4 linked regions of the Homo sapiens genome follow. The protein of the gene in region 4 purifies or fractionates together with the protein of the main gene of each other region. This does not show direct contact. Each region holds a gene or a part of one and is shown on either strand. Other genes may lie near its edges.

Evidence for each region. The genes of interacting proteins can lie anywhere in the genome.
Region 1: the proteins of NIPSNAP3B (region 4) and CYP24A1 purify together in Homo sapiens (affinity purification with mass spectrometry; one large-scale study listed by BioGRID and IntAct). This does not show direct contact.
Region 2: the proteins of NIPSNAP3B (region 4) and DGLUCY purify together in Homo sapiens (affinity purification with mass spectrometry; one large-scale study listed by BioGRID and IntAct). This does not show direct contact.
Region 3: the proteins of NIPSNAP3B (region 4) and PDK3 purify together in Homo sapiens (affinity purification with mass spectrometry; one large-scale study listed by BioGRID and IntAct). This does not show direct contact.

The regions. Positions count from the first base shown.
Region 1 is NC_000020.11:54,160,487-54,163,986, reverse strand, and holds part of CYP24A1 (1,25-dihydroxyvitamin D(3) 24-hydroxylase, mitochondrial isoform 1 precursor), read left to right. Parts: intron 1-1,124; coding exon 1,125-1,270; intron 1,271-3,500.
Region 2 is NC_000014.9:91,169,573-91,173,072, reverse strand, and holds part of DGLUCY (D-glutamate cyclase, mitochondrial isoform b precursor), read right to left. Parts: intron 3,071-3,500; coding exon 2,872-3,070; intron 1-2,871. UniProt on the Homo sapiens protein: D-glutamate cyclase that converts D-glutamate to 5-oxo-D-proline.
Region 3 is NC_000023.11:24,524,286-24,527,785, forward strand, and holds part of PDK3 (pyruvate dehydrogenase kinase, isozyme 3 isoform 2 precursor), read left to right. Parts: intron 1-1,912; coding exon 1,913-1,989; intron 1,990-3,288; coding exon 3,289-3,390; intron 3,391-3,500. UniProt on the Homo sapiens protein: Inhibits pyruvate dehydrogenase activity by phosphorylation of the E1 subunit PDHA1, and thereby regulates glucose metabolism and aerobic respiration. Can also phosphorylate PDHA2.
Region 4 is NC_000009.12:104,762,766-104,766,928, forward strand, and holds the start of NIPSNAP3B (protein NipSnap homolog 3B), read left to right. Parts: upstream 1-1,363; 5' UTR 1,364-1,475; coding exon 1,476-1,535; intron 1,536-3,559; coding exon 3,560-3,770; intron 3,771-4,163.

The DNA.
Region 1 (3,500 bases), on a different chromosome or scaffold from region 4:
TCCATCTTGGGAGGCAGAGTGAGACTCCATCTCAAAATAAAAAAGTAAAATTTATAGAGTCAGGGACTCCTGAGTTCAAGTTCAGCTCTGTCACTGGTTGTGGTGGCTTGGCCAAATGTGCAATCACCTTTTCATCCTCAGTTGCCTTGTCTCTAAAATGGACTAATAATTAATAATAATAATAAGAGAACCTACCTCAATGTAACTGTTTCTGGGTCTACTACAGATTACAGTTAACATAAAAACCTGGCATATCACAGTATCTCCGTGGACTAGATCTATTTCTGCCACATGACGAAGGGGAATATTTGATGCTAGGCATTGTTCACTTACACATTTAGTTAATCCTCACAACACACCTATAAGGTAGGTCCTTTTATTAGCCCTGAGAGGGGTACCTGAGACACATAGAAGTTAGCCAACGTTCCCAAGATTGCATGCTAGGTGATGGCAAAGCCAAGGTTTGAAGCCAGACAAGGAGCTTCCAGGACTCGAACTCTAACTGCTGTGCCATATGTGATCAGCATGATTATTACCATATAATGAGCCTGGTGGTTGTTTGCTTAATAGTGAGGGAGGTACACGCCTAGATTTTATGTTATAAATATTAGAAATTTTTACCATTATTGTCAACATGGATGGACACTCTACTTGTGCGTATGTATGTGGGGTATGTGTGCTTAGTAATATCTGGGTCCAAGTTGGATTCTGAAAGTGAACCCAAATCCTACCTTCTTTTACACTTTTTTCTCCCAAGATCTAAACTCTTACTACTCAAAACTATGACCTGCAGCCCAGTGGCATCAGCATCACCTAGAAGCTTATTAGGAATGCAGAGTTCCAGGCCTACCCAAGCCCTGATTCAGATTCTGCATTTTGAGAAGATGCCTAGGTGACTCCTATCCACATTAAAGTTTGAGAAGCCTTGCTCATGTCGGTATTGAAAAATCCTTGCCGACTTGACAAGAAGGCAATAATATAATTAGTGTGTGTAGCAAATTGTCAGTGTTCCTGAAAAGACTATTTAGATATTGCAAGAAGGAGTTTGGACTGAGGTTTTCTTCTGTGATTTTCCTCATCCCAATTTTCAGCTGACTTCCTCTCTTTCTTCTCTGCTCTAATAGTCAAAGCTTGTATCGACAACCGGTTAGAGAAGTATTCTCAGCAGCCTAGTGCAGATTTCCTTTGTGACATTTATCACCAGAATCGGCTTTCAAAGAAAGAATTGTATGCTGCTGTCACAGAGCTCCAGCTGGCTGCGGTGGAAACGGTAAGGGTGGGCTGGATTTGAGTTTGCTAAATGAACGGTCTGTACCATTTTTAGATGACAGATTTTAAATAGTAATTCATCTCATTCATTTCACTGGGATTCACTAGCATCAACTCCACAAAAATGAAAAGTCTCATACTAGATGCCACGGTGCCTCCGCGCACAGCATCTATGCCACGGTGCCTCAGCGCACGGCCTCATACCAGACGCCACGGTGCCTCCATGCACGGGCTTCTGTGCTTAAACTCTGGGTAGGAGGAGACTTCATGTGCCCCAGTGACAAAAAGCCAGAGTAGGATGTGATGAGTGCCATGATGTCCATGCAAACTGCTACGGGAGTTCAGGAGCAGTAAAGTTCTCTGCCCTGGCAAGATACAGAATCCAGATTTTTCAAAATTGGAAGTATTTTGTTCAGTTGCACATGTTACCCCAAAGTGCCTAACTGTGGCTGTTACTTACTGTAAAAAAAAAAAAAAAAAAAAAAAAAAAAAAAAAAGGCATACTCTCTTTCAAGCCAATAATATTTTTATCTGCTTAGAATTGTAAACAAAGTCCCAAAGAGTCTGGGACAAGTGGATTTTAACTGAAGCAAAACAGCTCATTGTAAAGACCAAAATTCTGTCTCTGATGTGGCCGATACTCCCTAGGAGATAGCAGATACTAAGTGAGACCAACCCCAAACAAATCCTGCCATAGGCATTCAGGTAGGTTTAATTGACTTGGATACTAGTTCGAGCTGTGATGGGAGTGGCGCACGCTAACCTCCTCCTAAGTCCAACATTTCATGCACCTTAAAGTCTCTAAGCAAAATGTAAAGCAGTTGTTTATTTTCCATGTGCTTCCCCTTCTGTGCTGTTTCTTGCCTGAAGTAAAGGTAGGGTTTTCTCTATCAGGAGATAGCGAGGTTCTCATTTCTCCTCCTGCTCCACAAGGCGGTTGAAAGTGGGAATCCATCCTCGCTCACTTTCCTGTTGAACTGCTTACCCTGGGTGGCTCCTTCCAGTGATCAAAGTACAGTGTCACCCATTATTCTTTTATTTTTTCAACTGGAACGTGACCTCTCTGAGGGCAATGGCTTAGAGTTGTCCACTGCTGTGTTTCCAGGACATAGAACAGTACTTGGCATCTAGTAGCGGCTGATAGATACTTGTTGAATAAATGAAGGAATTCAGGAACTATTGAGTGCCTACTGTATGCCTGGGACTGTTCCAGGTTCTTGAGAGACCACCATGAACCAGAGACAAGGGTTCCCACTCTCATGGAACTTGTATGCAAGTGGGGAAGACAGACAGTAGCCATGTAAACAAACAAATGTGGTCACTTTAGATAGTGGTGTGGATTGTGGAGGACGCCATCAGGATGGTGTAATATAGAGAGATGGAGATGATTAAAGGGAAGCCCTCTCTGAGAAAGCAGTACTGGAGCTGACTCTGGAATAATGAGAAGAGCCAGCCACAGAAAGACCTCGTGGAAGAGCGCTGCAGGTAGAGGAAACGGCCCATGCAAAGGCCCTGGGGCAGAAAGAGGGATGGAGCTACAGAACTAGTAAATGTGGTCAGAGCTGAGACTGGAGAATTGGATGGGCCATGTTAGCCAGAGCCTTGTGAGCCCAGCCTGGGTAAGGCATTAGATTTGATTGCACCTGTGATGGGAAGCTCTTGCAGCATTTTAAGCAAGGGAATCACCTGATCATTTATGTTTTTAAAAGTGGGCTCTGGCTGGTGGATGGAGAATAGACTTAGCCAAGAGAGTGGGTACAGCAGGCCAGTCAATGAGCTTGGTCTGTTCCATGGAGGTCAATCAAGGATAGTTTGTGCCCCTGAGGTTTTCCAGGCCACTTCCCCTCAAATCAGCTGCTGCAGCTTAGCCCCTGCAGTTTTCCCTACAGGCTCAGACTGCCTTACGTGGCTTTGGTAAAAGCTACAGTCATCTGCCCTTTGGAAACTCTATTTGGTACTTGCGGTGAGGGACTCACTGATATGGTTAAATCTGTTTCTTTTTTGGTCCTGGCTATTCTGAAAGTCACATTTGGAAAATCAGAACCATTTGAAAGTGTATCTAATTTGATGGCTACACCCTCTTCCTGTTTTGTAAATTAGACTCTTATAATAATGGCATCTACAGTTTATTTGCAGCCGAGGCTGCCAGTCCTCTGACATGAAGAAGACTGCCTTGGAGGCATCTTCTTCCAAAAATAATAAAATAACCATCATCTCTGAATGGTCTTGCA
Region 2 (3,500 bases), on a different chromosome or scaffold from region 4:
TTTGGTAGACTAGTACAGCTGTGGACCCCTGGTCAAAGTAATGCCTTTAACTGCATACAAGAAAATGCACAGGATTCCAAAGGAAACCAATTATCCTGCAAGCACAGTTATCAAATAATAGAAAAATGTGGCCAGACACGATGGCTCACACCTGTAATCCCAGCACTTGGGAGGCCGAGGTGGGCGGATCACGAGGTCAGGAGTTCGAGACCAGCCTGGCCAGCATGGTGAAACCCCATCTCTATTAAAAATACAAAAGTTCGCCGGGCATGGTGGCACGCGCCTCTAGTCCCAGCTACTCGGGAGGCTGAGGCAGGAGAACGGCTTGAACCCAGGAGGCGGAGATTGCAGTGAGCCGAAATCACACCATTGCACTCCGGCCTGGGTGACAGAGCAAGACTCCATCTCAAAGAAAAAAAAAAAAGGAAAAATGTGAGACAATATGCATGCTTCCTCAGTAGCAGCCTAAGAAACAAGATGCCAGTTCTACTATCATTGTAACTTTGAAGTAGTGATCAGCATATAGGATATTTTTGAGACATCAGGAAGAACTCTAACGTGATATGAAGATATCTGTGATTTCTGTTGCCAGCCATGAAGTCACAGGGTCTGCTGATATGACAGCCATTTGCTGCCTACATTCATAATTGAAGGAAATGCTAAATGTGAGTTGAGGTTATGAAAATAAAATTGAGGCTGGGCACAGTGGTTCATGCCTGTAATACCAGCACTTTGGGAGGCCAAGAAGGTTGGATCGCTTGAGCCCAGAAGTTCAAGACCAGCCTGGGCAATACAGCGAAACCCTGTCTCTACCAAAAAAAACCAAAACCATAAATTAGCTGGGTGTGCTGGCACATGCCTATGGTCCCAGCTACTCGGGAGGCTGAGATGGGAGGATCTCTTGAACCCAGGAGGTTGAGGCTGCAGTGAGCTGTGACTGTGCCACTGCACCACTCCAGCCTGGGCAACTGAGCAAGAACTGTCAAAAATAAAAATAAAAATAAAATAAAATAAAGAAGGGAGGGAGGGAAGAAGGGAAAAGAAAAACGTACTTTTTTTCCCATCCAATATCATGGAGCCTCTGAATTTCTCTAGGGACTGCAAGGGCCATGGACCAAAGGTAAACAGCCTCTGGTGAATCACGGGCAGAGGGAGGCAAGGGAGAACATCACAGGAGGAGCTGGTGTTCACTCTGCCTCCTGAATCCACACAAGCAACAAGCCTGTCCCCAGACCCCATGGAGCACGGCCTGGTGCCTCCTGCCTTAACAGATGTTGCCCGGTTTGATCTGTGTGACTTTTATTGGTGTTTCGCTCCCCCACCCCACCTCCTGAATGGTTTCTGGTGCCTGCAATAGAGCTTATGAAAGATTTAGGACATGGCCAGGACTATAATCCACTGTGACAGTCTTGGCCACCACCTAAAGAGCTTGCTATCACCACCCTGGCGGCAGCAGGATGGAACCTCGGTGTGGCTGCCAGCAGTGTCTGCATAATAGCACCCAGGAGAGGGGACATGCTGGAGCCACTGGCAGAGCCAGGCAGCCCTCCCCAAGGCTGAGACACATCCCGTCTGGGGGTGGCCAATGGAATCCCAGATGGCTGTCTGGCCATCTCTCCCTGGAGCCCAGGGGCAGAGGTGTCGATATTAGACTGAAAGCTATTTGATAAGCATCGGGGTCAGTGAAGCCCTGTTGAGCACTTACTGTGGACACTTACTTGCACCTTTGTAGGCAACAAACAGTTGCCATATCAGCAGACCCTGTGACTGCAAAGCATCATTTAATTGTCACATCTCTGTTATTGACATTGTACAGATGGGAGCCAGGGGTTCCAGGTTCCCATCTGGCTTTGGGACTTGGGCAAGTCCTTTTCTCTCTTTAGACCTCGGTTTCCTCATCTAAAATGAGAATCTGCATGTGACGAGCCATGGGGCCCTCTCAGCTCCCACCTCCTACAAAGGGTGCTGTGTTCCAGAGCCAGAGACTGCCATGGGTGCCTGCCAGTGGCTGGGGTCCCATCCCCACCCTTCCCTAGCTTCAAGAGAACCGCTCGGGCACACTTCACCCATGAAGGCAGCACAGACTATGGGCAGCTTTGTTGCTGATCAGAGGCAGCTGGGGCCTCTCTGGCAGGAGCCCAAACCAAGACATTTTAATAAATGTCCCAGAGTCCAAGACAAAATCTCTGATCCAAGTCCTCCATAAATAAAGAAACCTGGAGCCTGGCTGTTTATGCTGGCTGACCACTGATGGAGCAGAGTGAACTCTCAGACTTTACCAACAGATGTCCAGGAAGGGTCTGTGGAACCAGGGAATCGAGTGCACTCACCTTGACAAGTAGGGGCTGGGAGAGGCACAGCAGGCACGTCCCAGAGACGCCGGCTGTGCTGTGTTTGTGACTGCCAGAGGCCACCTCCGGCCAAGAACATGACCCAGCTTTCTGGACAGAGACCTGACCCAGGAGCTACTGCCTGGCCGAGGCTCTGCCACAAATCCCTGGGTATTGAGAGAGCCAGGCTCATTCCCCCTGGCTGAGGCTCACCGGAGCCAGGGAGGATTTTTAAAAATCTCGCTGAGGTGCCTGAAGTTAAAGGAGCCAGAGAAATCCCAAGCAGGTTTGGTTTACAGCACTGAACCATGAAGAAGGGCCACACTGGGTGCTCACAGTGGTCCCAGAGGTGAGTGGGACCGAGGCTGGCTCAGAGAGATTGATCATTTCTCCTGGGTTGCACAGCTAGAAATGGCTGAGCTGGGGCTGGAGCTTAGGTTTTCCACCTCCCGTGCCCATGTTCTCCCCACCCCAGGAATATGTAAGTTGATCTGCATCTTCAGGCCATTCTGCCCTTGTGGGCTGTGGGCTGTGTCCCTACCTTGTATGCACCCGCCTGGCTGTGACCTGCTGGGTCTCTTCTGGGGAGCCCCGCTTTCTCCAAGGCCTCCTCCAGGGAGAAGCTGCAGCCCAGGAAGAAGGCCACCATGTCCTTCAGCTGCTCCGAGTACTGCTCCAGCGAAGCCAGGCTGCCGGTGCAGGCACCGAACTCGTATTTCCAGAACTGGGGATGGCCCATCCTGGGGACATAAGGGGAAAGCTGGGAGGGCCCCAGACTCTCACTGTGGCCCCTGATAATACATTATAGAAGGACTGCGGAGAGAGAAGAGGATGTCTAGTGCTGAAATTTTCAGCCCTGGCACCAGGGTAGGGAGCATAGTTTTCAGCAGGGGGCCTTGCTGGCATCCTTCAAATGTCCCCAGATCGGAAACGATTAAATCAGCACGTATAGAACGTACCCCCACCTCCCACCCAGTGTGTCTCCTATACCCGCAAGCCAAAACAAGCCAAACCACCGAGAAAAGTAAATGGTGGCCAGGCACGGTGGCTCATGACTGTAATCCCAGCACTTTGGGAGGCCGAGGCGGGCAGATCACTTGAACTCCGGAGTTCAAGACAAGCCTGGGCAACAAGGTGAAACCCCGTCTATACTAAAAATACAAAAACTAG
Region 3 (3,500 bases), on a different chromosome or scaffold from region 4:
TCTTGAAGAATGGACTGGATACCATGCAGTAGGTATGGAAGCTGGAAGTAGGTATGGAAGCTGGAAGTAGGTATGGAAACTGGAAGTAGGTATGGAAGCTTCCAGTAAGCTGGAAGATCTTAGCGAAATGGCATGGACCAACTATGAAGCAACCCAAAAAGGGTAGCATGATGTTGACCAGTTGGAGGAGTATAAAGAAACTCCATTTCATGTTAAGGCTGGGAACATTCTCCTCCAAGGGACACATGAATCATTGTTATTGCATTAATAGGGAAGAAAATGTCTAGGTACACTGTTGTGGTTGTTCTACAGTGATCAATATTTACATAGTTATAATGTCACCAACACTTGATTTTCTACTTTCTTGAAAGAACCTATAGGCAATTTACAGCATCCCTAATTTGGGTTACAGAACAGAATGTAAATATTACCAACCCAAAGACTACAGCAGAAGTAGTAAAGAGTGGCTGCCTCTGGGTTCAGACTGAAGGATAAGATAGGAAAGGGGGAAGGACTTTTGTTTTTCTTCTTTTGTTAAATTTTTAAGCCGTTTACATATATTACTAAGTGATTTTAAAAACAACTGCTCAGGCCAGGCACGGTGGCTCACGCCTGCAATCCCAGCACTTTGGGAGGCCGAGGTGGGCAAACACCTGAGGTCGGGAGTTCGAGACCAGCCTGTCCAACATGGCAAAACCCCGTCTCTACTAAAAATACAAAAATTAGCCAGGAGTGGCGGCGCACACCTGTAATCCCAGACACTCAGGAGGCCGAGGCAGGAGAATCGCTTGAACCCGGGAGGTGGAGGTTGCAGTGAGCCGAGATGGCGCCACTGCACTCCAGCCTGGGCAACAGAGTGAGACTCTGTCTCAAAAAATAAATAAATAAAAATAAAAATAATTGCTCTTTGAAGAGTTCGGGATTTAGACTCAAAAGCTCTTTGTTCAGGTGTCTGGTTTCGGTGCCACTTCTGGGACCACGGGCAAGTCACACAGGCTTCCCAAAGCCTGTTTCCAGACCTCTAAACACCACCACCCCTCTAGGAGCCAGGAAGTGTTGTCAGGAGGAGTCAATTGAATAATGTATGTGAAAGCTCTGTGTAGACTGCTAAGAATCAAGCAAATGTGAACTCTAATTTGTATTACTGTTAATTACTTTATTAGAGGAAGTAGCTGGTTGAAATTACAGCATTCTACCTGAGAGAGTTCATGTAGTTTCAATCTCTTAAGTGATTTTGGGTCATGAGGAGGAGGAAGGACTGTATTTTTGAGCATCTGCTCTGTACCGCACACTGTTCTTATTGCTTCACCTGGGTTTTGGTGTTTCTCAGATTGTCTTCAGATGACCCATGGTGCAAGGGGAAAAGATCATAGGTCTCTAGGGGTTTATGTGCTAGCTGCTTGAGAAAAAGTTATGTGAACCTTACATTCTATGCTATAAGATGCCTTGTTTGTCATAATTTAACAAAACTGAACACTGCCATTTAGTCCAGTTCACCAGCCCTTTTTTTTCCTGTTGCTCCACATTCTCCCGTGGAATTCCCCCTGGGGTCAGTGGCAGAAGGTAGCCCCCAATTTGAAAAACACCAAGTGATATCTGACTGGCCTTCTGTAATACTCAGGATGTTATGGCATAGGTGATAATATTCCAATTCTGCTCAACAAAGTTTCAAAGAGATTGAGTGATTTATCCAAGGTCACATAGCTGGTAAGTGAAGGAACTGGGTGTCACCCCAGGTTTGTTTGATTCTAAAGCATATGCTTTTGCTCAGCCCTGCCTTTAGAGGTGGAAACTCAAATTAGCCTTTTATAGAGCTCTGTTTTACACACTTGGAAAATAGAATGCAAACATCATTCTTGAATTTCTCCTACTTTGGGTCCTTATTGATTGATGGTTTTGTCTCTGTTTTCAGCCAAAGCGCCAGACAAACCTATTCAGGTGGTTTATGTGCCCTCACATCTGTTTCATATGCTATTTGAGTTGTTCAAGGTAAGTGGAATTTTAAAAACGTGGAAAGAAGTCTTCATTTTAAATTACTTTGATTCAGGGCATAATGGATTCATTAGATTAGCATAAGAAAAAGGTTTTGCATAACCATTTTAAAAATTCTATTTCTGATATCCTGTGGGTTTTATAATTTGTACACTGTGAGATGAGAAATTGCTGTGTACACTATAGTTTTTGTGAATATTAGTACATATTGATTTTGAAGCTTAATTGCACTTTAGTGATTTTATGTAAAATCCATACTGTTTTTTCTTTAGTTATGAGATTAGAGATGCTTTTTAGTTTCCAAACCTGGCAAAGGCTTTACTGGTGATAGCCAGATCAAAATAAAAACATGTTTATACATATTTATGCTTCTGAAAATTAACCACACTGGTACATTAGTGGTTGTTCCAGTCCTGAGAGATCCTGCAACTCTTTTATAAAATATTTGAATCAATTCAGAAGATCCAAGAGAGGCAGAGGAGAAAGATGTAGATGAGCTGGACCAAAAGAACCACCCCTCCCCCCCACCAAATTCTTTAGAGTCTGCAACTTAAGCTGTTGCTTTTGTTAATCAGTAGCTAATGACATTTACAGTAGCAGTATTACAGGCACAAGGCATTTGAGCTAAAATTTCATTTCTTCCAATGCGTGAAACACTAAATTGAACACCTGAAAAATCAGTTATGCTGATTTGCTTCCAAAAATTAGAATGTTACTGATGTAACGCTTTAAGGTTGAAATGGGCATTCAATTGTGAACTTTCTCTTCAGCAGCTGTGGCTTTTTCAGAATTTCTTTTTAACCAATATTTCTTCTACTTTTTTCAGCCAAATGATTAATTTTTGTGGGAAGCATGCATCCTTTCAGTTTTTCTGCCTTCTTTAGAGAAAAGGTGCTCTATAAATGCAGACTGATAAATAGGATTTAAAGTGCACAAATCAGCCTCTGCATAGCCTCATTACATGCGATAAAAACATTCCTCTGGGTTGAGTTGAATAATTTAAATACCGTAAAGCGAAAAAAAAAAAAAAAGAGGAAGAAGAAGAAGGAAAGAAAAATAAATATTTAGCATGTTGGATGAGGCTAAAACTAGGTGAAAAACAAAGTGTCAGGAAATTTTTCCTTGATTTGAGCACGTTTAGCTAAGCTCTTTAGAGGGAAAAATGCCATAAAAATCCAACTAATATTTGCCCCAAAAAAGGGTTGTTGGGTATAAGTCATCTTGCGCTTCTTTCTCTTTAAAAATTGTGGTTTGTGATTCGGCAGTATGATTAATAAAAAGATCTTATTATTTTAGAACTCAATGAGAGCGACAGTTGAACTCTATGAAGACAGAAAAGAGGGCTACCCTGCTGTTAAAACCCTCGTTACTTTGGGTAAAGAAGACTTATCCATTAAGGTAACTGTTTTATGTGCATGTATACTTTAATTATCAGTTGTGATTTAATAGTATCTAGACATTGAAAAATCAGAGGGAAGGAAATTGACATTTATTGAGTGTCCTGTTTG
Region 4 (4,163 bases):
GTTAATAATATATAGTTTCAAATTGCTAGGAGGATATTGAATGTTCTCAACACAAATGATAAGCCCCCGGGGGAGTGGCTTCTGTGAGACCTAAATCCTCATCTGCCACAGAAGGAAGGCAACACATACTCTCCATAACTGAAAATGCAAGAAATAGCAGAAAATGACTATTATTTAAAAATACGGGCCAGGCGCAGTGGCTCGTGCCTGTAATCCCAGCACTTAGGGAGGCTGAGCCGAGAGGATCACCTGAGGTCAGGAGTTCAAGACCAGCCTGCCCAACATGGTGAAACGCCGTCTCTACTAAAAATAGAAAAATTAGCCAGGTGTCGTGGCGTGCGCCTGTAATTCCAGCTACTCAGGAGGCTGAGGCAGGAGAATCTCTTGAAACCGGGAGGCGGAGGTTGCAGTGAGCCAAGATCATGCCACTGCACCCCAGCCTGAGCGACAGAGCAAGACTCTGTCTCAAAAAAATAAAAAACATACGGAAACAGGTATTAGAAGAACAGCTTAAAATGTTGAAGGTGGTTAGTCTGGGGACCAGTACTCTGGGACTGGGAGGACTAGACCAGAGGTCGGCTGTTTTGCTCTTAAGGCTTACAGAACGATCTAGTTTCAAACTATCTATGTTTAACTTCGACTTTTTCCTATCAGGCTCGGTGCTGCTATTCCACTGAGCTCATGGAAAATTAAATCTTTATTAGGAGCCTTCCAAGATCACAGTGGGGTGGCAATGGGGACAGATAATGCAGAAAAGCGAAGGCTCACTGGTCTACAAATACACGTCTATCACAACCTGTAAAAGTTAACCCTGTCCCAGCCTGGCCAATATGGTGAAACTCCGTCTCTACTAAAAAATACAAAAATTAGCGGGGCGTGGTGGCGGGCGCCTGTAGTCCCAGCTACTGGGGAGGCTGAAGCAGGAGAATGGCGTGAACCCGGGAGGCGGAGCTTGCAGTGAGGCGACATCGCGCCAGTGCACTCCAGCCTGGGCGACAGAGCAAGACTACGTCTCAAACAAAGAAACAAGTTAACCCTGTCAACATCTCGACTTTAAATGCAAAGCACTGCACATGCACACGCTGAACACCTCCCCTTCCTTCTCCAGGGGCAACACAAGCACAACCGCCGCACATTTACGAATCTACACAACTGCGCATCGGAGCGAATGAGGTCAGGGCCCAGAAAGGTGGGGCAGGAACGATCCCAGCCTTCAGCTAATTCTGTCACCTCTAACGTCTGGGGCAAGAACGTTTCAGGAAACCAAGGGGGACCGAGGCTCAGCGCCGAAGAGAAAGACGCCAACTGCGGGACCTGTCGCGCCTCCCGCGCCGGGGTGGAGCTGACCCCGCCGAGTCCCGCCCCTGCCTGAGTTCGCCAGTGGTCCAGGAGCCGCTTTTTTCCACTCGGGAAGACTTCAGAGAAGTCTCACAAAGGACTCGGCTGGCTGCTTTTCTCAGTGCCGAAGCCGCGCCATGCTCGTTCTCAGAAGCGGCCTGACCAAGGCGCTTGCCTCACGGACGCTCGCGCCTCAGGTACTGGCCGCGGGGGCGCGCCCGAGCCCTGGCCGGAGGGGAGGGGAGGGGCGGGGGGTATTTCTGAAGCGTGCGAGCCACGCTCAGGCGCTCCCAGACCTGGGGCCCCGCGCCGCCGCCGAAGTTCTAACGCGGTCTCTGGAGCCGTCTGGCGCGCAAGGAGGAGGCTACAGGCCGGGGTCGTCTCGCTGGCAGTCGCTGTCAGAGGGGTTTTCTAACTGGATGCCAGTGTTTTTGTGATTTTTGTTTTTGTTTTTGAGACGGAGTCTCGCTCTGTCGCCCAGGCTGGAGTGCAGTGGCGTAGTCTCGGCTCAGTGCAACCTCCGCCTCCCGGGTTCAAGCGATTCTCCTGCCTCATCCTCCGGAGTAGGTGGAATTACAGGCGCCAGCCACCACGCCCGGCTAATTTTTTTTGTGTTTACTATTTAGTAGAGTCGGGGGTTTCACCATGTTGGTCAGGCTGGTCTCGAACTCCTGACCTCGTGATCCGCCCACCTTGGCCTCCCAAAGTGCTGGATTGCAGGCATGAGCCACTGTGCCCAGCCTGATGCCAGCTGTTTCTAGCCTAAATGCCACAACTCCCGGGACACCCCCGTGGCGCCAGCTGTTGCGTTTTTTTAGGATAACATCTCCAGATACAAATCTCCGAAAATCAACTTTAAAAGCAGTTATTAGAAATACCTCATTGGCCCATTTTCCGAGATAATAATATTTTTAAACTGTAGATACTAAGCAGTTTTTTATTTTCAGAATTTGATTAAACTGACCCAAAAAGAATGGCCATCAAAAGAAAGGATAGTTGCAGGTATTTTTTGGTATGAAGAAGGGTTTTCTAAGAAAACTAAGACACTTGGGCAATAAGGGCATAACTCATACTGGAGATGAATGAACTCAAGATAGACAATTATAATTAAGACGTTATGCACACAAACTACATAGACATTTGCATGTTGTAACCAAAAATATGTCAGTGAAAGATGCCTACTGAAACTGTTGCGATAGATTATTCTGGGTAGTGAGCCTCAGGAAATTGTCACATGCTAACCATGCCTAAATGAATGGATTTGTAAACTAGAATGCCACGGGAGTGGTCTGTGTATACACGTGTGTTTACATAAATATTTGCATGTACGTACATACAGACAGACTGGATAATTTCTGACAGGGCATTTGCTACTGAACATTAAGCTCACTCAGGCTCAGAGGGCCAGATTAGGACAGAAAATTTACCCATTGGGCATATGACTATTACAAAGGGTGGTTCTTAAAGGATAGTTCCATAAACTTGGTATAATTGAGTGCACTAAATGTACATACTTCTTGATATTGCATCTGTAATTAGAAACAATGATGGAGACAATTCTCATTTGTTGAGTTTTTTTCCTTTTCAGCCTTTATGCAGTATACACCCATAGTACAATGCAATTGGATAAGTTATAGCTTCCTTTTATATTAGTTACATTCCAGTCCTGTTTTTGACCGGTAGTCTTCATCAGTAGATTCAGGAAATACTTTGACCTGAATAGCCCTTCCTGTTTTTTTAGGAACCTTTTAAAAACAAGAGTTTTTTGTTAGTAAACGTATTTTTGGGCCTGCCAAAAGGCATGTGTACTTAATAAATTTTTTTCAATGTGTGGAACTAATACATATGGTATTGAGTAAGATGGAATATTGGCTAAACAGGGGAAAACCCTTTGTAAATTAAAGAGACTAAGTCTTAAATGTAGTTCTTCGGTAAAGGAGTATCATTATGATCCCACAGCCTTCTTGTGAGCAAATTCTCGTGAAAAAATGGCTAGAGGTAGACCCCTGCTAGGAAACAGTTGCTATATATTCATCAGAATTAAGAGTAGTTATCTTTATTGACATCTCTATGTAAACAAGTGTATATGGAGAATTGACAACAAAAGTAAACAATGGATAATGAGTCTATGTGTGTTCCTTGTACCAGACTCAGATTTGGTTGTAACCAAATCTGTAATTGTACCTTCCCAAGATATTTACATTTGTCTTACCTCCTTCAGGTGTGTTCATCTTTTGCTACGGGCCCTAGACAATACGATGGAACGTTCTATGAATTTCGTACTTATTACCTTAAACCTTCAAATATGAATGCGTTCATGGAAAATCTTAAGAAAAACATTCATCTTCGGACCTCTTACTCTGAATTGGTTGGATTCTGGAGTGTAGAATTTGGAGGCAGAACGAATAAAGTGTTTCATATTTGGAAGTATGGTAAAGAGTCATCCAGTTTTAGTATTCAGTATAGATTTTCATTCTGTTAAATGTAACATAAGACTTAGTTCTTGGATCTATATTACCATAGATACATACAGGTTAAGTAAGACTTTTTAAAAGCAATACCAAAAAAATAAATTTAGCAGATCTTCTTCCCAGTGGTACACCTCTAACCACCCCTTGCTTGAACTCTTATGTTATCATAAATGAGAAAACATGCAGTCTCATATATCAAACCATAAAATTGTGAATTAGACTTTAATCCTCAGAAAAATGTTAGAATCGTTTGCTATAAAGATAGCTCATGAAAAATTTAAAGCAGTAATTGTAAATGTTCAAGTGGGTTAAGATCACCGTTGGGCCTGCCAAAAGACATGTATATTTAATAAA